3 linked regions of the Homo sapiens genome follow. The protein of the gene in region 1 purifies or fractionates together with the protein of each later gene. This does not show direct contact. Each region holds a gene or a part of one and is shown in the gene's direction. Other genes may lie near its edges.

The links.
Region 2: the proteins of DHRS4L2 (region 1) and ACOT7 purify together in Homo sapiens (affinity purification with mass spectrometry; 3 studies listed by BioGRID and IntAct, with this or other methods). This does not show direct contact.
Region 3: the proteins of DHRS4L2 (region 1) and D2HGDH purify together in Homo sapiens (affinity purification with mass spectrometry; 3 studies listed by BioGRID and IntAct, with this or other methods). This does not show direct contact.

The regions. Positions count from the first base shown.
Region 1 is NC_000014.9:23,983,325-23,993,373, forward strand, and holds the start of DHRS4L2 (dehydrogenase/reductase SDR family member 4-like 2 isoform 1 precursor), read left to right. Parts: upstream 1-5,604; 5' UTR 5,605-5,623; coding exon 5,624-5,751; intron 5,752-6,857; coding exon 6,858-7,035; intron 7,036-10,049.
Region 2 is NC_000001.11:6,382,855-6,392,452, reverse strand, and holds part of ACOT7 (cytosolic acyl coenzyme A thioester hydrolase), read left to right. Parts: intron 1-6,684; exon of another isoform or gene 6,685-6,786; coding exon of another isoform or gene 6,787-6,959; intron 6,960-9,598. UniProt on the Homo sapiens protein: Catalyzes the hydrolysis of acyl-CoAs into free fatty acids and coenzyme A (CoASH), regulating their respective intracellular levels.
Region 3 is NC_000002.12:241,749,971-241,759,568, forward strand, and holds part of D2HGDH (D-2-hydroxyglutarate dehydrogenase, mitochondrial isoform 1 precursor), read left to right. Parts: intron 1-180; coding exon 181-324; intron 325-576; coding exon of another isoform or gene 577-609; intron 610-1,275; coding exon 1,276-1,418; intron 1,419-4,108; coding exon of another isoform or gene 4,109-4,147; exon of another isoform or gene 4,148-4,219; intron 4,220-4,660; coding exon of another isoform or gene 4,661-4,693; exon of another isoform or gene 4,694-4,776; intron 4,777-5,074; exon of another isoform or gene 5,075-5,166; intron 5,167-5,878; coding exon 5,879-6,044; intron 6,045-9,598.

The DNA.
Region 1 (10,049 bases):
AATGAGATACCATCCCACACCAGTTAGAATGGCAATCATTAAAATGTCAGGAAACAACAGATGCTGGAGAGGATGTGGAGAAATAGGAACACTTTTACACTGTTGGTGGTAGTGTAAATTAGTTCAACCGTTGTGGAAGACAGTGTGACCATTCCTCAAAGACCTATAACCTGAAACACCATTTGACCCAGCAATCCCATTACTGGGTATATATCCAAAGGATTATAAATCATTCTACTATAAAGACACATGCACACATATGCTTATTGCAGCACTGTTCACAGTAGCAAAGACTTGGAACCAACCCAAATGCCCATCAATGATAGACTGCATAAAGAAAATGGGGCACATATACACCATGGAATACTATGCAGCCATAAAAAAAGATGAGTTCATGTCCTTTGCAGGGACATGGATGAAGCTGGAAACCATCATTCTCAGCAAACTAACACAAAAACAGAAAACCAAACACCACATGTTCTCACTCATAAGTGGGAGTGGAACAATGAGAACACATGGACACAGGGAGGGGAACATCACACACCAGGGCCTGTTGGGTTTATAGGGGGCTGGGGAAGGGATAGCATTAGGAGAAATACTTAATATAGATGACGTGTTGATGGGTGCGGTAAACCACCATGGCACGTTTATACCTATATAACAAACCTGCAAGTTCTGCACATGTATCTCAGAACTTAAAGTATAATAATTTAAAAAAAGAAAAAATGTAAAAAAAAGAAATTAAAAAGAGTTGGAGCATAGAAGAAAGAAAAGAAATGCAATTTGAAGGGCAGTATGTGCAGTGTAATCTCATTTGTGGAAACAATTTTTAAAAGAAAAATGCATGTAAATGTATAGGAAACTTCTGGAAAGATACACAAAGCCAAGAGCTGTATGGGAAGAAGGTAAAAGAACCATAGGGAAGAGTTACCTTTTACTTTTCACATAACTTTCTTTCCCTTTTTAAAATAATAAGCATGTTTTATTTTTATAATTTAATGAACAGATGTGTTGATTTGAAAAACACACTGATCCTGAAAGTTAAAATTCCAATTCAGAGAAAATTGATTTCTATGAAAAGTATCAATCCCCCAACAATGTCATCAAAATGAAGTGTAGCTATACAACACAGACAGTGGTTGAGGTTGTCATCACTCACTCGACTTTCACATATAGAATTTAAAACACCCGACCGGGCGCAGTGGCTCATGCCTGTAATCCCAGCACTTTTGGAGGCCAAGGCAGGAAGATCACTAGGTCAAGAGATGGAAACCATCCTGGCCAACATGGTGAAACCCCATCTCTACTAAAAATACAAAAATTAGCTGAGCGAGGTGTTGTGCTAGCTCACCAGGTACTGTAGTCCCAGCTACTCGGGAGGCTGAGGCAGGAGAATCGCTTGAACCCGGGAGGCAGAGGTTGCAGTGAGCCAAGATTGTGCCACTGCACTCCAGCCTGATGACAGAGCAAGATGCCATCTCAAAAAAAAAAAAAAAAAAAAGAATTTAAAATGCCACAGTCCTTGGTGGACTGAACAAAAGAAGATTAACATGGTAATAAAGACAAATGAGTACATATGGAAGAAGGGGTCAGGGGGCTCATTTCTTCTAGGGAACAAGGGCCCTGAGCTTCTATACCCCTTCGTATTTACTGAGTAAAGGAGATAGGGAGAAAGGGGTGGTTGTCAGTAAGCTGCTTGACTTAGTGTAGGCTTGTATGACTGCATTCTTTGAACAGTAGTCTCCAGAGGTTCCAGTAGATAACCTCAAGGAGCACAGCACCAGGGAGTAATTGCCCTCAGCAAACCTCCTGGTGGCAGGTGCAGAAGCGAGTTTGCCCACATTTTGCAATCATGATAAACAGTTGGCTGTTTGATCATATAGCCTTCAGTGGAATGCTGAGTTGGTCACGACCCTCAGGCCTTTGGCTCCCTACATTAAAACACCCATTTCACCAGATTAAAAATATTCAATAAAATTTCTAAAAAGCACTTAACACTTGCCAGCACTTACTAAGGAAGTGCTCAATAAATGCTGTTAACACTCTTACTATTATTTCTCTGCTTGGCAGTTGTCCTAATCCCACACCAGCCCTTCCACATAGCCTAATCCTGACTTGTGTCAGTGATGCATGACTCAACAGTGAATCTGGGACAGCTATTGCAAAATGCAAGACTTAAAATCCATCCCAGATGAATTCTCTTCTGGACCGCAGGCAGCCCTTGAAAAGGATGAGAGTAGAGCCCTCAATCATGGAGGCATTTGTCCCTCAAGATAGGCAGATGTTACCACCTCCATACAAGAACAATCCCATTGCCTATTACAGTTCCCATTTCAGAGAGATACTCCCACATATGTATGTATTTCCCTGAAAGGTTTCTTGTTCCTCTTCTTTTTTTATTTTTTTGAGATGGAGTCGCTCCTTCTGTTGCCCAGGCTGGAGTGCAGTGGCATGATCTCAGCTCACTGCAACCTCTGCCTCCCAGGTTCAAGCAATTCTCCTGCCTCAGCCTCCTGAGTAGCTGGGATTACAGGCACATGCCACCAGGCATGTATTTTTAGTAGAGACAGGGTTTCACCATGTTGGTCAGGCTGGTCTTGAACTCTTGACCATGCCCAGCTAATTTTTGTATTTTTAGTAAAGACAGGATTTCACCATGTTAGCCAGGCTTGTCTCAAACTCCAGACCACACCCGGCTCATTTTTTTATTTTCAGTAGAGACGAGGTTTCATCATCTCAGCCAGCTGGTCTCAAACTCCTGACCTCAAGTGATCTGCCCACCTCAGCCTCCTAAAGTGCTGGGATTACAGGCATGAGCCACCATGCCCACCCCAAGATTTCCTGTTCTTATCTCCAATAAGCCAGCTTGATGAGGAGTAGCGCTAGAGATTCCCATACTTCTTGACTTCCTTCTATCCTTTTCTGCTCACAGGCCCCCTGTGAGAACACTGCATGTTCTCACTCATAGGTGGGAATTGAACAATGAGAACACTTGGACACAGGGTGGGGAACATCACACACTGGGGCCTGTCGTGGGGTGCAGGCATGGGGAAGGGATAGCATTAGGAGGAATACCGAATGTAAATGATGAGTTAACGGGTGCAGCACACCAACATGGCACATGTGTACATATGTAAAAAACCTGCACGTTGTACACGTGCACCCTAGAACTTAAAGTATAATAAAAAAAAAAAAAGAAAGAAAGAAAGAAAAAGAAATAGTGCTGGAGGCCAAATAGCAACCCTGCCCACACAAGGAAGGGCCATGTGTTGTTCACCAAGCTCCCAAGCCACAATTCTCTTTTCCCAGAATCCTTTGCTCTTTGAAGTGTGGTCTTCCTCACTTTCCTGGAACCCTCAGCCCCTCAGTGGGCCCGTCTACCTCTGAAGAGAAGAGGAAGAGAGATCAAATACCCCCCTGGAGGCTTGTCCCTTTGAACCAAGCCCTGAGAACCCCCGCAGCAGTCCTCCTGTGTACCCTCCCCCCAGCCCCACACAGATGGAGAGCCCTGGGAAGGGTTCCCACAGTGCATGAGCTCCAAACAGTGCAAGAGCACAAGGAGTGTGGCGCTTCCAGCCTCTGTCAATAATTCATGAGGCTCAGACTGAGGAGCACCAGTCAGAGTCAGCTTTGCCTGGACATGGGGAAAATTATACTGCAGCTCTCCTGTCTCATCGGGATGTGCTGAGTAGCAAAGCAGAGTGCTGCAGCTGTAACTTCTTGGCTGAGGAAAACACTAGAAATCCAGTGCAGGCCTGTTCTATTACTTGCTCGCCATACACCCCCTTTTGAATGTTGAAATCCTTGTTTTTTTTCTTTTTGTTGAGACAGAGTCTCCATCTGTCGCTCAGGTTGGAGTGCAGTGGCGTGATCTTGGCTCACTGCAAGCTCCGCATCCCGTGTTCATGCCATTCCCCTGCCTCAGCCTCCCGAGTAGCTGGGACTACAGGCAAGTACCACCACGCCCGGCTAATTTTTTGTATTTTTAGTAGGGACGAGTTTCACCGTGTTAGCCAGGATGGACTTGATCTCCTGACCCCGTGATCCGCCCGCCTCGGCCTCCCAAAGTGCTGGGATTACAGGGTGAGCCACCACGCCCAGCTGAATGTCCAAATCCTTTTTCAGCTGCTCAGCTGACCTGCACATATACTAAATGAATCTTGAGCAAACATGAATTCTATTCAAAAGTCATGCCTAGAACTGGATTTCACAAACCAGGATTCTTTCCCCTCTAATTGTAGGGACTGGCATAAGGCTGCCAAACTGGTGATTTCACCAATAACACATCTCTAAACCTACCCATCTGCTTTCATCATCTTTTCTGAAACAAAACACTAACACACACACACACAAAAAGAAGGAAAGGTATACTCCACAATAAAGGACTGTTAAATAAGCTTAGCTTTATGAAACTCACTGTAATTGTTTCCTTTTCTCATTTTGCTTTGAACTAGTGAAAACGCTGCCATGAACCAGCACTGCTTCTCAGTCTGGCTTTGGAGGCCAGTGGGTTAAACTAATTCAGATACTTACCTTTGGGTCTGTTGCGGCCTTTCTACACTGTACCATAAGCCATCCATATTTATTCATTCTCCCGGAAACCCAGGAGGGAGATCATTTCAGCCCACTTGGCAGAAGTGGAGACTGAAGTCTTGGACACAGAATTTATAGCTGGCAAGGACTTTATTCATCATCCATACCCTCAGTAATTTACAGATGAAGAGTCTGGCCCAGGGCACCAATAATAATCACTACATGGTGGCAGTAACTACTATGTGCTTAGTAGCTTACAGTTCATAAAGAGATTTTGCATTCAACAAATATTTATTGAACTAGGATGGAGGCTAAGACCTGGGGACAGAGTGGTTAGGGAGAACTTGAGTGCCCCGAGTTCTTTGCATTTCCACCACTGCTTGAGGGACTGTCCAGCCTCCTCGCTACCACTTAGCCCCTGTAAAGGAGGAAGTCCCTTTGGCGAGGGATATGAGATCCTGTTTTGCCAATGACCGTAGTCTGCCCTCCAAGGGCCCGTGAAGATGGAAGAGACCTTGGGCAGAGTGAAGGGCAGTGCCAGGCCTGGCGCAGCTACTGCCTATCACGTCTCTCTCCCAGGCTGCTCCAGCCTCACCTGGTGGACTCCATGGGGACCACAGGCCTCACCTCCATGGGCAGTCTCAAAACATTTGCCCTCCTGTGGGCTGTCACATACATAGACCCAGACTTTCTTGGAGAAGGAATTCTGAAGAAGCAAAAGCAACCAACTCAAAACCCCCACTTCCCCAAGAAGAAAACGTGGACAAGCAGATGCAGAAGGGCAGCAGCCAAAGTCTGCGGGTTCCTGCGGGGGCCAGGGGAGGGGCGAGCCCTACAGGCAACTTGAACGGAGAGCGCTTTGATCACTCACCAGCCCGGGAAGGCAAGCCCCAGTCAGGCGGAAGGTAGCTGGCTGCGGGGCGGGGCGACTGGCGGGCGGCGGGAGGCGCCAACCGCCACAGACGACTCCCAGCTGGCCGAGGGCGGGAAGGGGGCAGGCAGGGAAGCGGCCCGCCCTTCGTCCTGCCCCTTCGCCCTACTCTGTCACCTCCGCTGGAAGGAGTGGAACCCAGACTTGCTGGTCTGATCCATGCAGATGGCCAGGCTGCTAGGCCTCTGTGCCTGGGCACGGAAGTCGGTGCGGATGGCCAGCTCCAGGATGACCCGCCGGGACCCGCTCACAAATAAGGTGGCCCTGGTAACGGCCTCCACCGACGGGTGAGTGTTGGTGCCGGAGTTTCTGAGGCCCTGGCTGCCTGGAAACATGCACTGGTGTCTCGTCCTTTGCCTCCAGTGCCCCTGTCCTCAGACCTCACATACCGCCAAAGTCTGGCCATGGAAAAAAAGTAGCCACGTGGTCCGCCTGAAGCCCCTCCGAATACCCTGGCCCTCCCTTGCCAGCCCTTCTGTCCCTGCTGCCTCTGGCACAACTGTGCCACCTCTGTGCAGCCCCATCGATCTAGTCCCCCCAGTGTTCTGGGCTGCCCCAGTCAACCAGCCTTACCTAGCCTCTGGGAAGACCAGAAACTGGAAATGCAAGGGAATCTGGATTCAAAATCTTATAACAAGGCCTCCAGCTTTTTGAAAATGTACCATTCTATTTGGGCTCCAGAAAGTGTCCCGGAACCCCTCCCCCTTACCTAGATGGGACACCAGAGCCATGTGTCGAGACTTTTTTTTAGGTCGGTACATCTGGGCCTACCTTGCCCAGCCTGTTTCTCACCCACCTCTCTTGTCAGTCCTGGTTCTCATTTCTACAGGACTTTGCTAGATGCCAGCTCTTCACAAAACTAAAATACAAATGTAGATAAAATGCTAATGGCTGACAACTGCAGAATGTGTAACTCTTCTTCCCAAGGCAATATTTACGTTTTTGACCAGAGACCATCTTTTCACATGCACCCCAAAAAATAATTATGGAAAGAATTTTGAGAATGATGTAGACTAGTAAGAAAGAAACCTGGCGGCAGGACTGTTCTGAGTGAGACCTTCAAATCACGGAAGTGGCTGCTGCTGCACACCCAGCTCATTTCTCACCTCTCAGTCCCAACAGGAGATGAAGCCTGTCACCCGTGGTGGGAACTGTAGAAAGTGATGTCAGTTCTTGGGAACTAAGGCTGTGATCCAGGTCATAATAAAAATAAGTAAAGCAGTGCTAAAAATGGCCATGCCATTAAGCCTGTTTTACACATAGTAGGCACACGTAGGAGTTATATAGAGAAAGAGCCAGAATTCAAACCCGGGCAGTCTTAACTTCAGAGCCCATGCTGTCGACCTCTTCCCCTGCACAGGCCTTAGCAGTCTTTGTCTCTTTCTGCTCACAGGATCGGCTTCGCCATCGCCCGGCGTTTGGCCCAGGACAGGGCCCACGTGGTCGTCAGCAGCCGGAAGCAGCAGAATGTGGACCAGGCGGTGGCCACGCTGCAGGGGGAGGGGCTGAGCGTGACGGGCACTGTGTGCCATGTGGGGAAGGCGGAGGACCGGGAGCGGCTGGTGGCCATGGTGAGCTGCAGGGAAATGGGCACAGAGCCAGGAGGTGGAAAAGGAAGCCAGCCTGAGCCTCCTTCCCTGCTTTCCTAGACAGCAGCACATTTTTACTGTGTGCCTTTCTATTATGTCCATATACTAACGTCAGAGAATCATCCCATCTCAGTCAGAGAATTTTAAAACATTCTAATGCTTCAACCCTGCATCATCCCTTGAGTACCCCAAAGAAACAGCTGGTACTGGTTCTGCAGTAATTTTCAATCTAATTGAACAGATGTGAAGGGTAAATACAATCACAAAATAGATGTTCCCACCCATGAGCTAATAAACATTCCCCTCTTCTTCAGCTTATAGAGTCAAGTCCCTGGGAACCTCAGGAAGCAGCCCACCATGTTTCAGCCACTTACTATGTGCCATTTCCTGTGTTCAGAGCCTTACACAGGTTATCTCTAGACCTGACAACAACCCAAGCAAGGCAAGGACTATTCTCTCAGTCTGCAGACCCTGGCTCAGATAGCTGGAGCAACTTCCCAAGGTCCCACAGCCAGTAAGGAAAGACCCAGACCTCCCAAGCTCCCTTCCTTTATTGGCTGCCTGTGGACTACCAGGTACTGGACTTCAGTCTCAAAGAAAGTACATAAGTCAATGTCATAATTAGTAGTGGACAACAGCCTTGCAGCTGCTGAAGCAACTATGAAGCATTCACAAAGGAAGCTCCTCTTCCCTTGAGGCTCAGGGCACACACTTTATTTCCCAGAGTGGAAGGGAGAATCTACCCAAAAATGGAAAGTACAGGATTCTGCTAACAGATTGGAAGGTTGGCAGAAATAATTTGCATAATCTTCTTAGAAGAGGAGGATCTTAAGCAATAGTAGACAGAATAGGGTAATTCCATTTTTAAGGAACAGTCTGGCAGACACTCAAATGTGCATTGGAAAGAGCCAAATATGAGTCCAAGAAAGTCACAAATGTGAGTCCAAAAAAGCTTGGCTTAGACTGGTCGACAAAGCCCAAGATTGGGGCCTTGATCCTGATGGTGGAAGGAGCCGTTTGGGAGTCTGGATCAATTAGCACTAACCATACGACATGTAAGTAGCAATGTAATGTGAAAATCCTCCTAGAAAAACAACCTGTGCCCCCCACCAGGTTCACTTAACATGGCCTACAGGCCTGGCCCAGAAGTGGTACTTGAGCTAAACCTTAAGGAATGGATGGGAATGGACAGATGGAATAGTGACGAGGTTCCAGATAACTCTGCAAAATGAGCAGACAGCCAAGGAGGAACTGAAGGAAAGAGAGGAGCACTGTCAGTCCACAGTGGAGAGCACAGGCTCAGGAGTACTGCTGGGGAAGGGGCTGCATTGGAAAGATAGAGGCCATGGGCCTCCATATCTTTTTTTTTTTTTTTTGAGACAGAGTTTCATTCTTGTTGCCCAGGCTGAAGTGATATGGCACAATCTCAGCTCACTGCAACCTACGCCTCCAGGTTCAAGCAATTCTCATGCCTCAGCCTCCCGAGTAGCTAGGATTACAGGCATCCACCACCACGTCCAGCTAATTTTTGTATTTTTAGTAGAGACGGGGTTTCACCATGTTGGCCAGGCTGGTCTTGAACTCCTGACCTCAGGTGATCCACCCCCTCGGCCTCTCAAAGTGCTGGGATTACAGGCGTGAGCCACTGTGCCCGGCCATAGCTTCTTAAAAGGATACGTTAAGGACCTTAAAAGGATATGGCCTCTTAAAAGGATATGTTTACACATTCTTGCAGCAAATAAGAAGCCATGTGAGGTTTTGAGCAAGAGAAAGATGGTTATTAGGAAAGCTAATCTGGCTCTGGTAGGAAGGATATACAGAGGAGACACCGAATCCAGGGCATCAGTGAGGAAGCTGTTGCTGTCGTCCAGGTTTAGAGCAGTGGCGGCGGGACTGGAATAGATGTGCCCAAGAGACATTTAGTGGAAACGAACCAAGATTTTCCAACCCCATGTCAAAAAGTGGGAAATAGAGAAGTCAAAAATGACTCTCAGGTAGTTTGTATGACCATTGTCAGAGAAGAGAATGATAGAATACTTGTCAGCAATTTGAAATGTCTTCTGCCAGTTGCCACATGTTACCCTGCAATAAGAAAAGCCACTGCCCTGAGAATGGATACTACCCAGTGGCCTCCTCATCTGCACACCACGAAGCTTCTCACTGGTGTTGTAAGTGGAAACCAGAGTAGCTGCCTATCTGCTTGATTATATTTTTTCTTAAAAATGTATAACTATCAGAACACAGAACAAACAGCTCCTAACCGCTTTAGTGTAGTGATCACACAATTTAGAATAAGACTTAGAAGACTTTCTTTTATTTTTTTCCAGAGACAGTGCCTCATTCTGTTGCCCAGGCTGCAGTGCAGTGACATGATCATAGCTCACTGTAACCTCGAAGTCCTGAACTCAAGCAATCCTCCCACCTCAGCCTCCCAAGTGGCTAAAACTATAGGCATGCACCACCACACCAGTTCATTTTTTAAATTTTTTGTAGAGTTGGGGCTGTATTTCCCAGGCTGTTTTGAACTCCTGGCCTCAAGTGGTCCTCCCCACTGGGCCTACCAAAGTGCTAGGATTATAGGTGTGAGCCACCACACCCAGCCTCATTCATCTTTTATGGTTTGCTGTCTCTGTTCAATCAAAACCCAGCCTCCTCCCATCTCTGTGCTGACAGACCTGGAAGGAGAGGAGTATGGGGTATACAGCAGAGTAGAAAATGTCTCCAGGTGATTCTAGAGCAATCCATTGTCTCCTCCCAGCCCAAACACATGTGTACTGAGCACAGTGCACATCACTTATTAACTTACTCTGCACCTCCCTAGTAACAAGTCCATTGGTGAGACTTACACAGAGCCAACCCAGGTGACTTGGCTTTGTGCCAGGATGCCAAAATTTAAAGGGTGCAAGAAAGTATTAATACCGATTTTAAAAGATTATGTGACTGTAAATTTTGTTAGATTAACACGTTGACAAACCCAGCATTCCTTCCACTGTCTA
Region 2 (9,598 bases), on another chromosome or scaffold:
AGGGCAGCCTGAAGGTTACTCTGCAGTTCTCTTCGGCAGAATCGGAAGCAGCAGGCTGGCATTTGTGCATGAGCTAAGTGAGGACAAGGAGTCTAGGTTTTCAGCCACTGCACACAGGCTCTGTGGCCTGCGACCGGTCCTATCCTGCTTGATGAACTACCAGGAGTGAGAGCTGCTTTCTGTTTTGGTAGTGGGTTCCTCACATTTGGGGGTTGGGCATCACAGACTGACCTTGGGCTCAAGCCAAGTCCAATAGAAGCAAGTTACTTTCCTGTAGATGTTGACATCTCCAGGAAGGCTGGGCATATAGCAAGTCCTGGGTCTATGGCGATTCTTGACTCTCAGTCTCATCTTCTGGCCTGGTCGAGGGCCTCTCCTTACCTCAAGGTCGGTTTTGACTTTTCCAGAGGGGGAACGTCTTTGGGGGAGCCCTGCCCCTTTGACTTTGGCTCTGTGGCTGTTCTGGTCCCATCGACTCTGGAGGTGGGGAAAGCGGGGCAAAAAAAAAAAAGGAAATAACTGGAGACAGACAGCCTGCATCAGGTTCCTGAATCAGCTCTGCTGAGTATTGGCTGGGAAACTTGGGCTCCATGGTTTGCAAAGAGCTTATACCTGTCTCATCCCACTTGGTTTGCCCAATTCCCTGGGAGGTTGATGGTCGGTAGTGCCACCCTTACCTGTGTGGAGGAGGAAATGGCAGTTTTGGGAGTTGAGTAACTGTGTAAGGTCATCCTGCTCCAGGAGATCCAGGGACAGCCCCTGCCCAAGTCTTCTGACTCCAGATCCAGTATTCTTCCCACCCCTCTCCTGAATAAAGGAAACCTTGATTTAAATCTTCCCGTGGAAGGCTGGCCTTTTATTTACTTCTTCAGGGTGGTGAATAGCCAATTTATACATGTTGTCTTTTTTCACCCAGCTTCTAACAGTTACTAGATTTTTTGTTTTTTGAGACAGAGTCTCACTCTGTCACCCGGGCTGGAGTGCAGTGGCCCGATCTCAGCTCACTGCAACCCCTGCCTCCTGGGCTCAAGTGATTCTTGGGCCTCAGCCTCCCGAGTAGCTGGGACTACAAGAGTGCGCCACCACGCCTGGCTAATTTTTGTGTTTTTAGTAGAGATGGGGTTTCTCCATGTTGGCCAGGCTGGTCTCGAACTCCTGACCTCAGGTGATCTGTGATCTGCCCTCCTCGGCCTCCCAAAGTGCTGGGATTACAGGTGTGAACCACCGCACCCAGCTGGAAAAAGTTCTTGTGCCTCAGCCTCCTGAGTAGCTGGGACTACAGGCGTGCGCCACCACGCCCAGCTAATTTTTGTATTTTTAGTAGAGATGGGGTTTCATCATGTTGGCCAGGCTGGTCTTGAACTCCTGACCTCAGGTGATCCTCCCGCCTCAGCCTCTCAAAGTGCTGGGATTACAGGCGTGAGCCACTGCTCCTAGCCTAGTTACTAGATTTTTGTATAGCTTTAGACACTTCCATACAGTAAGTGTGTGCTTTTTGTTTGTTTGTTTGTTTGTTTTTGAGACAGTCTCGCTCTGTCACCCAGACTGGAATGCAATGGCACGATCTCAGCTCACTGCAACCTCTGCCTCCTGGGTTCAAGCGATTCTTCCACCTCAGCCTCCTGAGTTGCTGGGATTATAGGTACCCGCCATCATGTCTGGCTAATTTTTGTATTTTTAGTAGAGACGGGGTTTCACCATGTTGGCCAGGCTGGTCTTGAACTCCTGACCTCAGGTGATCTGCCCGCCTCGGCCTCCCAAAGTGCTGGGATTACAGGCGTGAGCCACTGCGCCTGGCCCGTGTGTGTGCTTTTTCTTACCCACTGTAAACCAAGTCTGCTATCTCAGGTTCACAATTGCATATTGTTTCTTTATTTTTTGGAGATGGAGTCTCACTCTGTCACCCAGGCTGGAGTGCGGTGACACACTCTCGGCTAACTGCAACCTCTGCCTCCTTTGTTCAAGTGATTCTCCTGTCTCAGCCTCCCGAGTAGCTGGGACTACAGGCGTGCACCACCGTGCCCAGCTAATTTTTGTATTTTTAGTAGAGATGGGGTTTCACCATGTTGGCCAGGCTAGTCTCGAACTCCTGACCTTAGATGATCTGCCCGCCTCGGCCTCCCAAAGTGCTGAGAATTACAGGCATGAGCCACCGTGCCTGGCCAATTGCATATTGTTTCTAAGTGGCTGCCTTGGCCAGACGACTGGTGAGGAGGATGCTTGGCTGCCCCTGCTCATGAGTGAGCAGGTGAGCCTCAGGTGCAGAGCGTGACTGCCAAAGGAGTAGGCGGGAGTGGTGGTAGGGGTAGGCCTGTGAAGAGAAGGCTGTGGTTCCATCGGCTTGACTCAGAGAAACCGCAGGACACTGGAGAGTGACTGTACTAGGATGGGGAGCCCTTTAAGGACATCTGAGCTGACACCCCAAGTTGAAAGAGGAGCCTCCTGGCCTAGCACAGCCAAGCCCATGAATTTAACAATGCTTTACTGGACACTGCCAAGAAGCATAGCACCAGGAGGGAAACGTGTGGAAAATGTGGCCCCTGCCTTAAGGGGTCACAGTCTAGCAGGGGTGAGAACGTCCAAATTCCCACCATCTTAGACACAATGGTCACATGTTCTCAGTTCAGACATTGTTGAAGGGATAGGGGCTTTTTTTTCTTTCTTTTTTTTTTTTTTTTGAGAGGGAGTCTTGCCCTGTCCCCCAGGCTAGATGCCATCTCGGCTCACTGCAACCTCTGCCTTCGAGGTTCTACTGATTCTCCTGCCTCAGCCTCCTGAGTAGTTGGGATTACACACGCCCGCCACCACGCCCAGCTAATTTTTTTGTATTTTTTTAGTAGAGATGGAGTTTCACCATGTTGGTCAGGCTGGTCACGAAGGGAACAGAATTTTTAATTGCATCAATTTAAATTCAGGTGGGTAGCCACCTGTGGCTGGTGGCTATCTTTTGGGGAGTGCAATATGTAGAGAAATTTAAACATCAATTTACTAGTAGGTCTGTGGGGGGCAGGGTGTTCCTAAAGGAAGCTCCAAGGCTTTCTGGGGACTGTAGCCAGCTCTGGAATAACCATGCTGATGGAGGGGGACCTTGGCATGGACACCACCCAGCAGGCAGATAACTTGGCATGCTTTATTTATAGGTAGATGTGTGAAATCTACAAGGTTTTTTTGTGTTTTCTTTGCTTGCCATGCTCTTAGATGCAGATCTACCAGGAAGTTTCCTGAGATCAGGAATTGTGTTGTACCATGTGGTACCATGAATGCCTAGAATAGTGTCTGAGGTCTAGTTGACAGGTCAATAAACAGCAGCTGAGTGGCTATGAGTTTCAGTATGTTATGGGGTTAGAATTATTTCCCCCAAGGGAAAAGACAAAGAGGGGCTCTACCTTTGTCTTTTTTTTTTTTTTTTCTTGAGACGGAGTCTCACTCTGTTGCCCAGGCTGGAGTGCAGTGGCGCGATCTCGGCTCACTGCAAGCTCCGCCTCCCGGGTTCACGCCATTCTCCTGCCTCAGCCTCCTGAGTAGCTGGGACTACAGGCATCCGCCACCACACCCGGCTAATTTTTTTTTGTATTTTTATTAGAGATGGGGTTTCACTGTGTTAGCCAGGATGGTCTCGATCTCCTGACCCTGTGGTCCTCCCACCTTGGCCTCCCAAAGTGCTGGGATTACGGGCGTGAGCCACCGCACCCGGCCTTTTTTTTTTTTTTTTTTTAAGAGAGTCTCACTCTGTCACCCAGGCTGGAGTGCAGTGACAGGATCTTGGCTCACTGCAGCCTCTGCCTCCCCAGTTCAAGCAATTCTCCTCTCCTCAGCTTCCCGAGTAGCTGGGACTACAGGCACCCACCACCACACTCGGCTAATTTTTGTATTTTTAGTAGAGACGGGGTTTCACTGTGTTTGCCAGGCTGGTCTCGAACTCCTGACCTTAAGTGATCTGCCCGCCTCGGCCTCCCAAAGTGCTGGAATTACAGGTGTGAGCCACTGCACCAGGCCGGGCTCTGTCTTTGGTTTTATAATGGAATTAATGAAAAGAAAGAACCTGGCCAGGCGCTGTGGCTCACGCCTGTAATCCCAGCACTTTGGGAGGCCCAGGTGGGCGGATCACGAGGTCAGGAGATGGAGACCATTCTGGCTAACACAGTGAAACCCCATCTCTACTAAAAATACAAAAAATTAGGCGGGCGTGGCGGTGTGCGCCTGTAGTCCCAGCTGCTGGGGAGGCTGCAGGCAGGAGAGTGGCATGAACCCGGGAGGCGGAGCTTGCAGTGAGCTGAGATCCCGCCACTGCACTCCAGCCTGGGCGACAGAGTGAGACTTGGTCTCAAAAAAAAAGAAAAAAAAGTTAGCTGGGCGTAGTGGCGGGTGCCTGTAATCCCAGTTACTTGGGAAGCTGAGGCAGGAGAATCGCTTGAACCTGGGAGGCGGAGGTTGCAGTGAGCCGAGATTGTGCCATTGCACTCCAGCCTGAGCAACAAGAGCAAAACTCCGTCTCAAAAAAAAAGAAAAAAAAAAAAACAAAGAACCTGATTTACAGAAGCCACACTCAGAGCTTGTATTCTGGAGCATTCCGCAAAATGATTTACAGTGCTGGCTCTCTTGCTGCTGGGATGTGTGGACCCTGGGTGAAGATGCAGTCTTTGTAACCCAGAGAGCCTGTGCGTGGGGAGGCCTTTGTCTACCCACTGTCCAACCTCACGCTGTAAGTGGGCCACTTAGCCTGGCATTGCCCTGGAATTGGCACCTGCAGCTAGCTGGCTCCCCAGTTCTGGTCAGACCAGAAGTGGCTTTCTCCTGTGTGACCCACCTGGCCTGTGTAGCCTGCACCAGGGGGTGACCCCATAGGCTGTCTTGCCATCCCACCCCTTGGCCTCTCACTCTCAGAGCCCTCCTGGGGAGGGGGATCAAGGATGTGCCTCCCCATCCTTGGACCCCTGCATGGGAATAACTGGGGAAGTCTGTTACAAATATGGGTTTTCTGCATGTGAACAGTACTTCAGCAGAGAGTCAACAAGATGAAGATTGAGGAGATAATGGGGAAACTTGAATAGTCCCTTGATAATGATTTTAAGGAATCACTGCTTTTTTTTTTAAGGTAGGATAATTGTTTTGTAGTTTGCTTTTTTAAACCAGCTTTATTGAGATAGATTTAGAATGCATACACAAGAATATTTGAAACGTACAGTTTGCTGAGTTTTGATGAGTGTGCACACTGAGTAGTGGCGGGCCCAGTTGTGATGTCGAATATTTCCAAACTCCCAAAATTCCCCTACTGTTGGCCCCTGGCAAAAAGATCTGCTTTCACTCACTCGCTGTGCCTCTTCTAGAATTTCGTGTCGATGGAACCGGATCGAGCTCAGTGCTGGGCCTCGCTCCTGTGTCCCCGTAGCCCTGTATTACCCTGTTCCCTGCACACTGCAGTTTCTCTTCACCAGGCCACAGAGACTTGGGATCTTGTGAATGAAGTTCACAAATGCAGATTTCAATTCATTTAGGACAGAAACGTGAAGTCACTTGCTATTTAATGATATTAGGAATTTGGATGATATTTTAGATGAGATCTTTGTTTTGTGGTTTTTATTTTTATTTGAGACAGGGTCTCGCTTAGTTGGCCAGGCAACTAAGTGGTGCAGTGGTGCAATCATGGTTCTCTGCAGCCCCAACCTTCTGGGCTCAAGGGATTCTCCCACCTCAGCCTCTCGAGTAGCTGGGACTACGAGTGCACGCCTCTGTGCCTGGCTAATGTTAAAAAGATTTTTTGTAGAGACATGATCTCACTTTGTTGCCGAGGCAGGTCTTGAACTCCTGGGCTCAAGTGATCTTCCCACCTCGGCCTCCCAAAGTGCTGGAATTGTGGGCATGAGTCACCATACCCCTCCTTTAGGTTTTTCACAAGGAGCTTTTATCTTTGAGAGGAAATGCAGACATATTTACGATGTCGTACTGGGAAATCCGGGATTTGCTGCAGAATAACCTGGCATGGGGAGCAGGTGGGAGCAGAGACCAGAGGTGCCCTGAGCTGACTGTTTTGGGGCTGCTTGATGGGGACATAGGGGTTCACTCCCTCCTCCCTCTACTCTTGTAAGCATTTGATGTTTACCACAATGAAGAATAAAAAGAAAACCAGGCTCCTGAGCCTCCACCCCAGAGCTACTGCCTCTAACTCCAGGGGCGGGGAAGGTCAGGGAGGGGTAGGCCCAGGAATCTGCATTTTCCTCGGCCCTCCTGGAGCTTGAGGGCCACTGTCAGAGGAGGGCCAGGCACCTGCCGTGTTGTGCGGTGTGTTGGCCTTCCTCGGCTTCCCCGCAGCCTTCCAGCTCTCCCGGTGCCTGTGAGCCAAGACCTCTCTGCCCAGGTGGAACTCCGCCCAGGTGGAACTCATTCTTCTACTTGCCTGAGGGCCAGCCTGAGTGGTGCGAGGTTTAAGGTCCTGGAGGTGGGAACCCTTATGAGTGTTGCTTGTGGCCCCACCCAGTTCATCCTCTCCCGCAGAGGGGTGGTGGCCCTGTCCTGTTTCCCTGTCTGTGAGTTCAGGCCGAGTCATGGATTCCTTGCATCACTGGTCTTTTGTAGAGAACATCCTGTGATCCAGTTCCGGAAGCCGAGGAGGCGGCTTGCCGGGGGCTGGTGGGGGAGGGGCGGTCCTAGGAGGAGCAGGAGCCTGGTGCTTTCTATCAGGGAGGGATCACACCGGCTCACTGCTGAGCCGGCCAGGCAGACACAGGCTTGGGCTCTGCTGGGCATCATACTTGTCACTGGGTAAACAGTTTGCCCACTTACCGCAGGATGAAGCTGCTTGCCAGGGCTCTCCGGCTCTGTGAGTTTGGGAGGCAGGCATCTTCCAGGAGGCTGGTGGCTGGCCAGGGATGTGTGGGGCCCCGGCGAGGGTGCTGCGCTCCCGTCCAGGTGGTTGGGCCCAGGGCTGATCTCCCACCCTGTGGAGCCTGCATTACTGGAAGGTAGGATGACTGGGAATATTTTGTGCCCATGGTGTCTCACTTGCGACGCCGACTGGGCAGCCAGGGCCTTGGGCCGCATAACTTGGAGGAGTTTTGGGGAGGGTAGTAGGGTCGGGTGTTGGATGAGCTGTGTGTTTTGCTGGATTGAAAGTGCCCACTTAAGTGGCCACCCTCAGTGGAGACCTGGCATGTTCTTCCCCTAGGGACGAGCGGAACACCCGGGCTTTGTTGGAGGAGGTGACCTGGCAACCCTGGGCTGTGGGAATCTGGGCCTCTGCAGATCAAGGCTCCTGCAAGCCAGCAGCTGTGCTGGCTCACAGCTGGCAGCTGGCATCCGTGCCCTGCTTTGTCCCTAGGCTGGATGTTGAGCTGTGATTTTAGACCAGAAGGTTGGTGCAGGGCCAGAGGGAGCTGTTCCTGCACGATTGGCTGATCCTAACAGTGCAGTGTTGAGCTGCTTACAGATGGCTTTTGCATACTTTATTTCTCCTAAACTTTACAGAAACTCTGTTGAGTGGGCATACATACCTCCCCCTTTGTGCCAGCTTTATTGGGTTATAGTTCACATGCCATACAATTCATTCACTAATGTGTACAAGCTAGTAGATTTCAGTTTTATGTTCACAGAGCTGTGGGATCATGACCTCCATCAATTTTGAAAGGGGTGGTAGGAGGATTTTTTGTTCTCCTGACATGGAGCTCCCCAAGCCCTTGGGACCTTTGTAGTCCTAAGAGTGTCTAGTATGCTAATGAGAGAACTGGTGGCTGGGGGCCCTAGATATAGCTTCAGGATGGGAGCTGGTCTCCAGAAAGGCCAAGGGAGGATTAGCGGGTTAGCGCTTTCAACCTTACCTTCCTATACCGCAGAAGGTAGTGCCAGACTTTACTTGAATTGTAGGACACCCACCTAGTGTCGGAGAGTTGGAGAAGTGGGGTTGAAAGAGACACCCATGTTTGTTATTAAAAGCATGAGTAAAAACAGCTCGCCTAGGAATATAATTTTTGGGTCATATGGTAATTTTGTGGTTATTCTCTTGAGGAATTACCAGACTGTTTCCAAAGTGGCTGCACCATTTCACATTCCCACCAGCAGTGTAAAAAGGATTCAATTTCCCCATATCCTTGTCAGCACTTGTTATTATCCATCTTTTGAATTCTAGCCATGCTAGTAGATGTGCAGTGGTATCTCACTGTGGCTTTGATCTACATTTCCCTAATGAGAGAAGATGATACTGAGCATCTTCTCATGTGCTTATTGACCACTGTGTATTTTTAGAGAGCTGTCTAGTCAGGTCTTTCCTGTATTTTCCAATTGGTGTAATTGTCTTTTTGTTGTTGAGTGATGAGAGCTCTTTATATATTCTAGATGCAAGTCCCTTCTCAGATAAAATTTTTTAATTAAGAAAATTTTCCAATTCAAAAAAGTTGTCAGCCTGGGCAACATAGCAAGATCTGATCTCTATTAAAGATTAAAAAATTAGCCAGATGTTGGCTGGGCGTGGTGGCTCACACCTGTAATCCCAGCACTTTGGGAGGCCGAGGCGGGCGGATCACGAGGTCAGGGGATCGAGACCATTCTAGCTAACACAGGGAAACCCCATCTTTACCAAAAATACAAAAAATTAGCCGAGTGTGGTGGCGGGCGCCTGTAGTCCCAGCTACTTGGGATGCTGAGGCAGGAGAATGGCTTGAACCCGGGAGGCGGAGCTTACAGTGAGCCAAGATCGTGCCACTGCACTCCAGCCTGGGCCACGGAGCAAGACTCCGTCTCAAAAGAAAAAAAAATTAGCCAGATGCAGGGTAGGTGGGGTGTGCCTGTAGTCTCAACCACTCAGGAGATTGAGGCAGGAAGATTGCTTGAACCCAGGAAGTTGAGGCTGTAGTGAGCTTATTGCACCACTGCAATCCAGCCTGGACAACAGATCAAGACTCTTGTCTCTCAAAAAAAAAAAAACTGTGTTAAAATACACATAATATATAATTTACCGTTAAAAAAATCTGCCATCAGGCCGGGCGCGGTGACTCACGCCTGTAATCCCAGAACTTTGGGAGGCTGAGGCGGATGGATCACGAGGTCAGGAGATCGAGACCATCCTGGCTAACAAGGTGAAACCCCGTCTCTACTAAAAATACAAAAAATTAGCCAGGCGTCATGGTGGGCGCCTGTAGTCTCAGCTACTTGGGAGGCTGAGGCAGGAGAATGGCATGAACCCGGGAGGCGGAGCTTGCAGTGAGCTGAGATTGCGCCACTACACTCCAGCCTGGGCAACAGAGCAAGACTCCGTCTCAAAAAAAAAAAAAAAATCTGCCATCTTAGCCGGGCATGGTGGCTCACACCTGTATTCCCACCACTTTGGGAGGCCAAGCTGGGTGGATCACCTGAGGTCAGGAGTTGGAGACCAGCCTGGCCAACATGGTGAAACCCCGTCTCTACTACAAATACGAAAAATAGCTGGGCGTGGTAGCCCACGCCTGTAGTCCCAGCTACTTGGGAAACTGAGGCAGGAGAATCACTTGAACCTGGGAGGCGGAGGTTGCAGTGATCCAAGATCGTGACATTGCACTCCAACCTGGGTGACAAGAGCGAAACTCTGTCCAAAAACAAAAAAAAAACAAAAAAACTGCCATCTTAATGATAT
Region 3 (9,598 bases), on another chromosome or scaffold:
CAGGCGTGCACCTGCCAGGCAAACCCTGGGCTGTTTGTTGCAGTGCCAGTCCTCGTGCTCCTCGTGGCTGCCCAGCTCACCCACCCACATGAGTCGGGCTGATGTTGCTGCTTTGAAGGGGGACTTGGGTGGGCTGGGTTTAGCTCCGTGTGGTGCTTGACATGCTGTGACCCGTTTCAGGCTGCCCAGGCTTTGCTGAGGTTCTGCAGACCTTCAGCACCTGCAAGGGGATGCTGGGTGAGATCCTGTCTGCATTCGAGTTCATGGATGCTGTGTGCATGCAGCTGGTCGGGCGCCATCTCCACCTGGCCAGCCCGGTGCAAGGTACTGACCCCCCACACAGGGGGCAGCTGGTCCTGCAGCTCCTTCTGCACGTCTGGACACATGGGACGGCTCAGAGACCCCGGGTGGGCGGGGGGTGCCCGGGCGGGCGGGTGGGGGGTCCCTGGGCGGAGCATGGAGTGGCCGTTGGGCTCATGTGTAAGAAAGCTGCTCTTAACATATTTAGGACAAAGAACAGGCTGCCCTGGTCCTGTGTAAGGTTTGTAGTTACACAGATTTCCTGATCTTCTGCAGGAAGGACGGGAAGGAACTAAGTGGCTATTTTTGGTGAGCTGGGAGACTTTCTTTCCATTTCTTCTTTTCTTTGTTTTCCCATGTTGCTTTCTGTAAGCACGTTTTTCTTTTATGCTGGGAAAAAAGCCAATAATTTTTTGTTGTTGGGGGATGGAGTTTCGCACTGTGGCCCAGGCTGGAGTGCAATGTCACGATCTTGGCTCACTGCAGCCTCCACCTCCCGGATTCAAACCATTCTCCTGCCTCAGCAGCCTCCACCTCCCGGGTTCAAACGATTCTTCTGCCTCAGCAGCTTCCACCTCCCGGGTTCAAACAATTCTCCTGCCTCAGCCTCCTGAGTAGCTGGGATTACGGGCACCTGCCACCACACTCAGCTAATTTTTGTATTTTTAGTACAGACAGGGTTTTGCCGTGTTGTCCAGGCTGGTCTCGAACTCGTGACCTCAGGTGATCCACCCACCTCAGCCTCCCAAAGTGCTGGGATTACAGGTGTGAGCCACTGTGCCCGGCCAAAGACGACTTTTTAAACCTTCTGAAAGTCAGCTTAACCAGAGAGCTGTGTGCTCCGCAGGCTGCCTGGGTCCTTCTTGGCCACGAAAGATCAGTGGTTGCTATTACAGCTGTTCTGCCCGAGCAGCCCTGATTCTTGCCCTGGCAGCCGGAGCCTCTGCTCACTCTGCCTTCCTTGCTCACTTCTAGAGAGTCCGTTTTACGTCCTCATCGAGACTTCAGGCTCCAACGCAGGCCATGACGCTGAGAAGCTGGGCCACTTCCTGGAGCACGCGCTGGGCTCCGGCCTGGTGACCGATGGGACCATGGCCACCGACCAGAGGAAAGTCAAGGTGCCCTGTGTCCTGCTTGCAGGTCCCCGCTCTCTGTCCGTCCAGTCCAGCCTTGTCTTGGGATGCCTGGAACGGTCATTGGTGCAGCCTAGACAGTGTGGGATGTGGCTGAAATGTGACTGGGTTTCATGGCTTTGAGAGAGTAGCCTCTTTGGATGGAAAATGTATTCCTGGTGTCTAGGCCATTTTCATTAATATTTAAAAAGTACTTCCTCCCCACCATGACCCTCCCCAACCCCATGCTGTGGGATGAGCAAGGGGACTGCCCCATTGCTGGTCCCCTGCAGCCTGTGGTTAAGCGGCCAGTCAGCGGCAGCTCCGCATAGAGTCGTGTGGAAGGAGTGGAGGCAGGAGGAGCCCCTGGGGCTGTGGAGGCTTAGCCTGGACCTCGGGAGTCCTAGGATGGGCAGTTTTCCTTCCCTAGGAGGAAGGGGCGTTGACTGTGTGACCAGATGATTTGGCCTTTTGAGGCCAAAGGAAGGAGGGGCAAGGCCTGGGCAGGGGGAGCCCTCGGTCACCGTCACCGGGGCCTGGGCAGGGGGAGCCCTCGGTCACCGTCACCGGGGCCTGGGCAGGGGGAGCCCTCGGTCACCGTCACCGGGGCCTGGATAGTGGGAGCCATTGGTCACTGTTACCGGGACCTGGGTGGGAGGAGCCCTCAGTTACCTTCACCGGGGCCTGGGCAGTGGGAGGCGCCCTTGGTCACCGTCACCAGGGCCTGAGCAGTGGGCGCAGGACTTTACTCCCGCTTAGTTGATTTCAGGCTCGTGTTAGCCTGGGTGTTGCCCTTGCCATCTTCCCCCCTCACCTTTGCCGCCTGACTGTCATGATTCCAGTGCTTCTGGGCAAAACGGTGTCTGCTCCCAAGGGCTGGGGTGCGGTCGGCTGGGCTCACTTGTGTGTCCTGATGCCCAGCCCAGGGGCGTCCTCTGGGCGAATGGCAGCTGTGTGGTGCCATCTCTGTTGACTGAGGCATGATCAAGTGTGCGTCCTTCCTAGGTCTCTGCCTGCCATTCCTGCATTTTTCTAAGTGGACTGTGACAGTCAGCTCCCTTACATTCTGCCGCAGTAACAAGCAATCCCCAGGCCCCAGGGACCACACGAACAGAGGCTCACCCTCCCTCGCGTTCCGTGTGGGTGATCGCTGTGGCTGCATGTGCTCCTGTGGCTTCCAGTCCAGGGGCCCGGGCTGAGGCAGCTGCCCAGCCAGTCAGTCTGTTTTCCCAGCAGAAAGAGCAGGACAGCCGCCGGGGATTCTCTCAGCTTCTGCTTGAGATGGGGCGGGAACGTGAGCCCAACTGCCCTTGGTGGTGCGGGTGGGGACCCTCATCCCGCACTGGCTGCTTTGCTGGAGTGGCAGTCAGTCATGCAGCCCCCACACCACCCCCAGGAGGGCGACCCTGGCACCCCAGCCTCCACACATCAGCCCCCATGCCCCCACAAAGGAAGGCTGCCCCCAACACCCCCAACCTCTCTACCAGCCCCCATGCCACCCCCAGGGCGGGCCGTCCTCCATGCCCCCAGCCTCTGCACATCATCCCCCACGCCACCCCCAGGGCGGACTGTCCCCAACGCCCCCAGCCTCTGCACATCAGTCCCCAGCCCCTCCACAGCCTGGTCCAGTCCTAGACCTGTGCCTTGAACATTAATGCCCAGAGCCGGGTTCATGACCAGGACAGGGCCGAATGGGGCTGGTTCTGTGTTCACAAAGTCACCTCCAGACGCTTCCTGGGACGGGTTCAGGAGACGCCTTGTGTGTCTGTCACCTCGTTCTGGCTCATGCTCGACGGGTAGGTAATCTGGCCTTTGTTTTCTGCAGATAGCAAAACGACCCTTTCTTAGGTGTGCGGCTCGATGAGTTGACCCGGATATGCGGTTGTGTGCAGTTGCTCTGAGGCTTTTCTGTGCTGTTGTCCGGTGTTGGCGAGGCTCTGGGCAGGTCCTGAGGCTTTTCTCTGCTGTTGTCCGGTGTTGGCGAGGCTCTGGGCAGGTCTGGGCAGGTCCTGAGGCTTTTCTCTGCTGTTGTCCAGCATTGGCGAGGCTCTGGGCAGGTCCTGAGGCTTTTCTCTGCTGTTGTCCGGTGTTGGCGAGGCTCTGGGCAGGTCCTGAGCCATTCTGCTTTCCACTCTGTGGTCTTTCCCTTCTGGGAGCCCTGGGTTTTTGGACATGTTGAGACAATGGGGCTTGCGCAGGTCCAGCCGCTGCCGCGGGGGCCCTGTGTTCAACGGGGGACACTCAGCCCTGCCCAGGCCCCGCTGTAGCCTCAGCCCACCCGAGTGGAAGCCACACTGGTCGCACCAGATGCCCCGGGCTCCTCTGAGTAGTGACCACGGCGGGTCTCATTGGCACTGCCTATCCACCCGTCACGTGTCATTCAGTTAGCAAACCTGCTAGGGAGATGCCTCCTGTGCCCTGTGCCTGCCGGGCGACAGCAGTGACCAGGGCGGGAGAAGCCTTGCCCCATAAACTCACGCAGCAGAAGGAACAAGCTCAGCCCATGGCCCCTCAGAGCCAGGAAGCGCCGGGGAGGAGGGCAGGGCCAGGCAGGGTCATGGGGTGTGCCGGGGAGTGCCGGGAGGGCCGGAAAGATGACCCTGAGGGGTCATTTCAGCAAAGACGGGGTGTGGGGAGCAGAACGTCTGGTGCAGGAGCACCAAGACCCTGAGGGGCGCGTGCCTGCCATGTTCTAGAACCTTCCAGAGATGGTGGGTGTGGAGCTGAGTGACTGAGGCGTGAGCAGACAAGGGTAGAGCCCATCTTGTGGCCACGGGGACACATGGGGCGGCCGGTCTGATGAGGAGGTAAGAAGGCCTCACAGGCAGCCGATGCCCGCCAGACCATGGAGGCGAAAGCCGGCCTCGCAGCCGTGCCCGTGCGGCTGTGACGAAGGGACCGTAGGAGGGGCTCTTGCTCAGGGCAGGGCGTGACCCAAGGGTCTGATCTGACCGAACTAGCTCTAGAAGTTTGTAAAAGGGGCCGGGCACGGTGGCTCATGCTGTAATCCCAGAGCTTTGGGAGGCTGAAGCAGGAGGATCACTTGAGCCCAGGAGTTTGAGACGAGCCTGGGCAACATCGGGAGACTTCAAAAAAACAAAAAATTGATGGTGGGGAAATGCGGGAATTTTGGGCGCCGGCCGGATTCCCAGTGGTGGCGAGGAGGTGGTATTTTTTTAAGTGTCAGTGTGGCATTGTGGTTGCCTCAATAAAACAGAGTCTTTTTTTGTCTTTTTTTTTTGAGACAGGGTCTCGCTCTCACCCAGGCTGGAGTGCAGTGACACAGTTGCAGCTCACTGCAGCCTCGACCTCCTGGGCTCAAGCAATCCTCCCGCCTCAGCCTCCCGAGTAGCTGAGTCTACAGGTGCCCACCACCAAACCCAGCTGATTTTTATTGTTTTTAAGAGACGGGGTCTCCCTGTGTGGCTCAGGCTGGTCTGAAACTCCTGGGCTCAAGTGATCCTCCTGCCTCAGCCTCCCAAAGCTCTGGGAATACAGGCGTGAGCCACTGCGCCCGGCCAAGTGTTTCTCTTAGAATTTCCTGAAATGATAGGGTCTCTGGAGGGGCAGGTGCTGGGCTTGAGCCCTGGGTAGGACCCTGCAGGGGAGAGGTGGTCCTGCAGCCCACAGAGGATGGCTCTGTCCTGTTCCTCATGGTGCAGATCTCCACAATGGAAGTTCGAAGCAAGCAAAAGCCACGCAAACCACAGGCCGATCTGTCTGAGCCCTAGGATTTGGCCCGGTTCTGCTTCAGCCACCAGCACCGTCTGCTCCTCCTCAGAATCCTTCCTCCCCCGTGGCCCGCCCGCCGTGTCCCTCCTCCTCCACGGCCCGCCCACCGTGTCCTTCCCTCCCCCGTGGCCCACCCACCATGTCCTTCCCTCCCCTGTGGCCCACCCGCCATGTCCCTGCCTCCCACCCGACATGCCCCTTGAGCTGCCTGGGCCCTGCTGTTGTCCCCACTGCCTGTGTGACTCTGCGCCCCCTTCCCTACCCTGCCCCACCCTGGTTCAGGGAGCGTCCAGGCCCATTCTCATCCTCAGGGCCTTCCCTGGCCCTTGCCACTCTGTGCCGTGTCATGACCTGAAGCTGCAGGTGGGCGCCTCCCCCTTCCGTCATGGCTGTCCCCCTTCTGTGAGGTGTCCCAGCCGCCTGATTGCCGGAGTCCCAGGGTGCTCGGTGCTGTCGTGGAGCCTGGGACATTCACTGTCTGGGATTGATTCCAGGGTTGGAGCCACACCTGGTCTGGGGCATTCGCTGTCCTGGGTCAGAGCCCCTCCTGGTCTGGGACATTCGCTGTCTGGGGTTGGAGCCACACCTGGTCTGGGGCATTTGCTGTCCGGGGTCGGAGCCTCACCTGGTGAAGATACAGAACATGCTGCTGCCCTAACCCCGTGTGGTGTGCCCCCTGTCCCCGGGTGTCGTTCCCATAGCCAGCCCTTGTCTCATCTCGTCTCATCCTCTAGATGCTGTGGGCCCTGAGGGAAAGGATCACAGAGGCGCTGAGCCGGGATGGCTACGTGTACAAGTACGACCTCTCCCTCCCTGTGGAGCGGCTCTACGACATCGTGACTGACCTGCGCGCCCGCCTCGGCCCGCACGCCAAGCACGTGGTGGGCTATGGCCACCTTGGTGAGCGGCGCCCCGGGGCCGCGGCCCTGTGTGTGCTGGGTGGTGGGCCCCACGGTCACCGTCACCCTGCCAGGCTTCGAGGCAGGGCAGTTTGACCATGGTCTCTGGCTTAGCATATCTCCCGTAGACACTGGCAGGACCACGGTGTCTGACAGGGAAGGGAAAATCCTAATCGTTGTCATGACTCGTTTTGAGTATTTTGGAAAAGACTGCCATCGTGCACTTGTAATGGCAGAGCGCATGGCTCAGCTTGTCAGAACGTTCTGGGATCTTCAGTGGCATGCAGGGTTGGAGGGCATCAGCCTTAACCCCGGAGTCCGGGATGCGGGTCTCAGGGGCTCCTCTCACAGGGCCCGGCCCCGAGGCCTTTGCAGTGCTTAGCCCCCAGCTGCTCTACCCCTTCAGATGGGAGGATTTCAAAACCACGTTCAGATCATCTTTTTTCTGCAGAAAAATCATGCTTTAACGTGTAAGCTATTAATTCATAGGAAGAAAATGTTTCAATCCTATCAGTTCTTTTTTTTGAGACGCAGTTTCACTCTTGTCACCCAGGCTGGAGTGCAGTGGCGCAATCTCGGCTCACTGCAACCTCCATCTTCTGGGTTCAAGCAATTCTCCTGCCCCAGCCTCCCGAGTCTCTGGGATTACAGGCGTCCACCACCAGGCCTGGCTAATTTTTGTATTTTTAGTAGAGACAGGGTTTTGCCATGTTGGCCAGGCTGGTCTTGAACTCCTGACCTCTGGTGATCTGCCCACTTCGGCCTCTCAAAGTGCTGGGATTACAGGAGTGAGCCACCGTGCCCAGCTGTTTTCCTGTCAGTTCTTTGGAGCCTTGGAGCGAGGTGTCTAAAAGGCCAGCTTATAGGGCAGGGGTGGGGGCAGTGCTGGGGGTGTGGAGCATGGCTTTGGGGCCTGACAGATATTCACTCTGGCTTCTTCCCTGGCCTGGTGGCACTGGAGTCACTGACCTGAAGCCTCCATCCATCTGCCAGTAAATGGGATTCAGGTGCCACCTCTGTGGTTACAGGAGGGTCTAGGGTTGTGTACGTGACGACAATAACACGTATTACTTACGAAGGTCCCGTGCTGTCCCAGGCATTATTCTAAGCACTTGATGTGGAGAAACTTCTCTGCACAACAGCTTTTAGGACTGGTGGTGTTGCTTCCCTTTTACACACATGTAAACAGGTTCAGAGAATTTAAGTAACTTGCCCAAAGTTGCCCAGCCTGTGGAGGGGTACATCTGGAGGATTTGACATAGGATGGATGGTAATCTTCTGTGATAGGAAGGCAGGACTCCTGAATGGGAAGGGGGTAAGGGCATGATGAGTGTGTCATCATCCAGAGAAGAGGGGTACGGGAGCCCCAGTATTTCAGAATATGGGAAGGGGGTAAGGGCATGATGAGTGTGTCATCATCCAGAGAAGAGGGGTACGGGAGCCCCAATATTTCAGAATATGGGAAGGGGTTAAGGGCATGATGAGTGTGTCATCATCCAGAGAAGAGGGGTACGGGATCCCCAATATTTCAGAATATGACCTCAAGCCAGGAGGAGGCTTCCTCCTCTCCAGGTAACTTCAGTCTCTCTTGGCCACAGATAAAGCAGACCATCTTGGTGAGAAATGGAATGAGCCCTCTGTTACTTTGTAAAAGCAAGAATGGGCCAGGCGCAGTGGTTCATGCCTGTAATCCCAGCACTTTGGGAGGCTGAGGCGGGTGGATCACCTGAGGTCAGGAGTTCGACACCAGCCCGGCCAACATGATGAAACCTCGCCTCTACTAAAAATACAAAAAATTAACTGGGCATGGTGGCAGGCACCTGTAATCCCAGCTACTCGGGAGGCTGAAGCAGGAGAATCACTTGAACCCAGGAGGCGGAGGTTGCAGTGAGCAGAGGTTGCACCATTGCACTCCAGCCTGGGTGACAAGAGTGAAACTCCATCTCAAAAAAAAAAAAAAAAGCAAGAATGAATGTTGAATTTTTAAAATGTGTTTCCTGCATCTGTCATGGTGACCGGGTGCTTGTCTGCCTGTAATCAGTGTGGTAAGTTACACTGATTGATCCCTCTGGAGTCAGATGAGTCTGTGTTTCTGGGGTAGGCCCAAGGTGGCCATGATCCTTTCTGTATCTTGCTGGATGAGTTTGTTTATGTTTGGTGTGGGATTTTGACAGGGGTCTTGGTGGATGATTCTGTTCCACGCTGTTCCTTTCTTCTGTCCATGCTGGATTTTGGTATCAAAATCATAACATGAATATTATGCAGAACTTGCCAGTGGAGCTGTTTGGGCCTGGAGGTTTTTTTGAGGGAGTATTTTAAAATTATAGCTCAGCTTCTTCAATAGCTTTAGGACTTTCAAGCTTTCCTTTCTTCTAGATTGGTATTGCTAATTTTTTCCCATATTGGCATAAAGTTGTTCGAATATTCTTTTGTTGTCTTTTTATGTAGCATTTGTGGGATGCCCCCACACCCTTTTTTTTGGTGGGGACAGGGTCTCGCTGTCACCCAGGCTGGAGTGCAGTGGCTCACCACAGCCTCGACCTTCTGGGATCAAGCAGGCCCGCCACCTCACACACACCAGCAGGCCTGGCTAACTAAAAAAAAATTTTTTTGTAGGCCCGGTGCAGTGGTTCACGCCTATAATCTCAGTACTTCAGGAAGCCAAGGCTGGAAGGATCACTGGAGTCCAGTAGTTCTAGACCAGCCTGGGCAACACAGTGACATCTGATCTATACCGCCCCCCGCCCCACAATATATGTGTGTGTGTGTGTGTGTGTGTGTGTGTGTGTGTGTGTGTGTAGAGCCAGACTCATGTAGAGCCAGTTGTGTGGCCGGACCGGTCTTGAACTCCGGGGCCTCAAGCAAATGCTCCCTCCTTGGCCTCTCAAAGCCAGAGATTACAGGCGTGAGGTACTGTGCCTGGCATTATTTGCTGCTTGCATTATCATTCCTTCTTTGACCGATGAGTTATGCAGAAGTGTGTTTCTTAATTTCCAAACGTGGTGGTTTTCTAGTTATTTTAAAAATTATTGATTTCTTTTTTATTGCATTATACCCAGGAAACTTCGTCCTTATCAGATCAGATTTTTGAAACTTGATCAGTGGCAGCTTATGATCAGCCTTCGTAACTGTGGAGTGCTTGAAAAGAATGTGCTCTCTGCAGTTGCTGGAATCAGTGTTTGTACAGATCCATCAGATAGAAGTATACGTCGCGTGTTCATTCTACATCCTGCTGACCTGCCACTCCCTGAGGGAGGTGTTAGAAATCTGCTGACAACAGACTAATCTGTTCCTCCTGTAGCTTTGCCAGTTCTGGAGACGTGTTCTTAGGGGCATAGGACATGAGGTTCGTCTCTTTGTTTTGGGAAACTGAATCTCCTAACGCGATGGACTCGCTCTTTATCTCCAGCATTGCCCGCTGCCTTGGTGTCTGCTTTGTTTATTACACAGTGATGCTAACTTTCTTTTATTTAGTGTTTGCCTGATGTGTTGTTTTTCCTCCGGTTAGCTTCAGCTTTTCCATCCTTAGTGATTTAGATGTGTTTCTTGTGGACG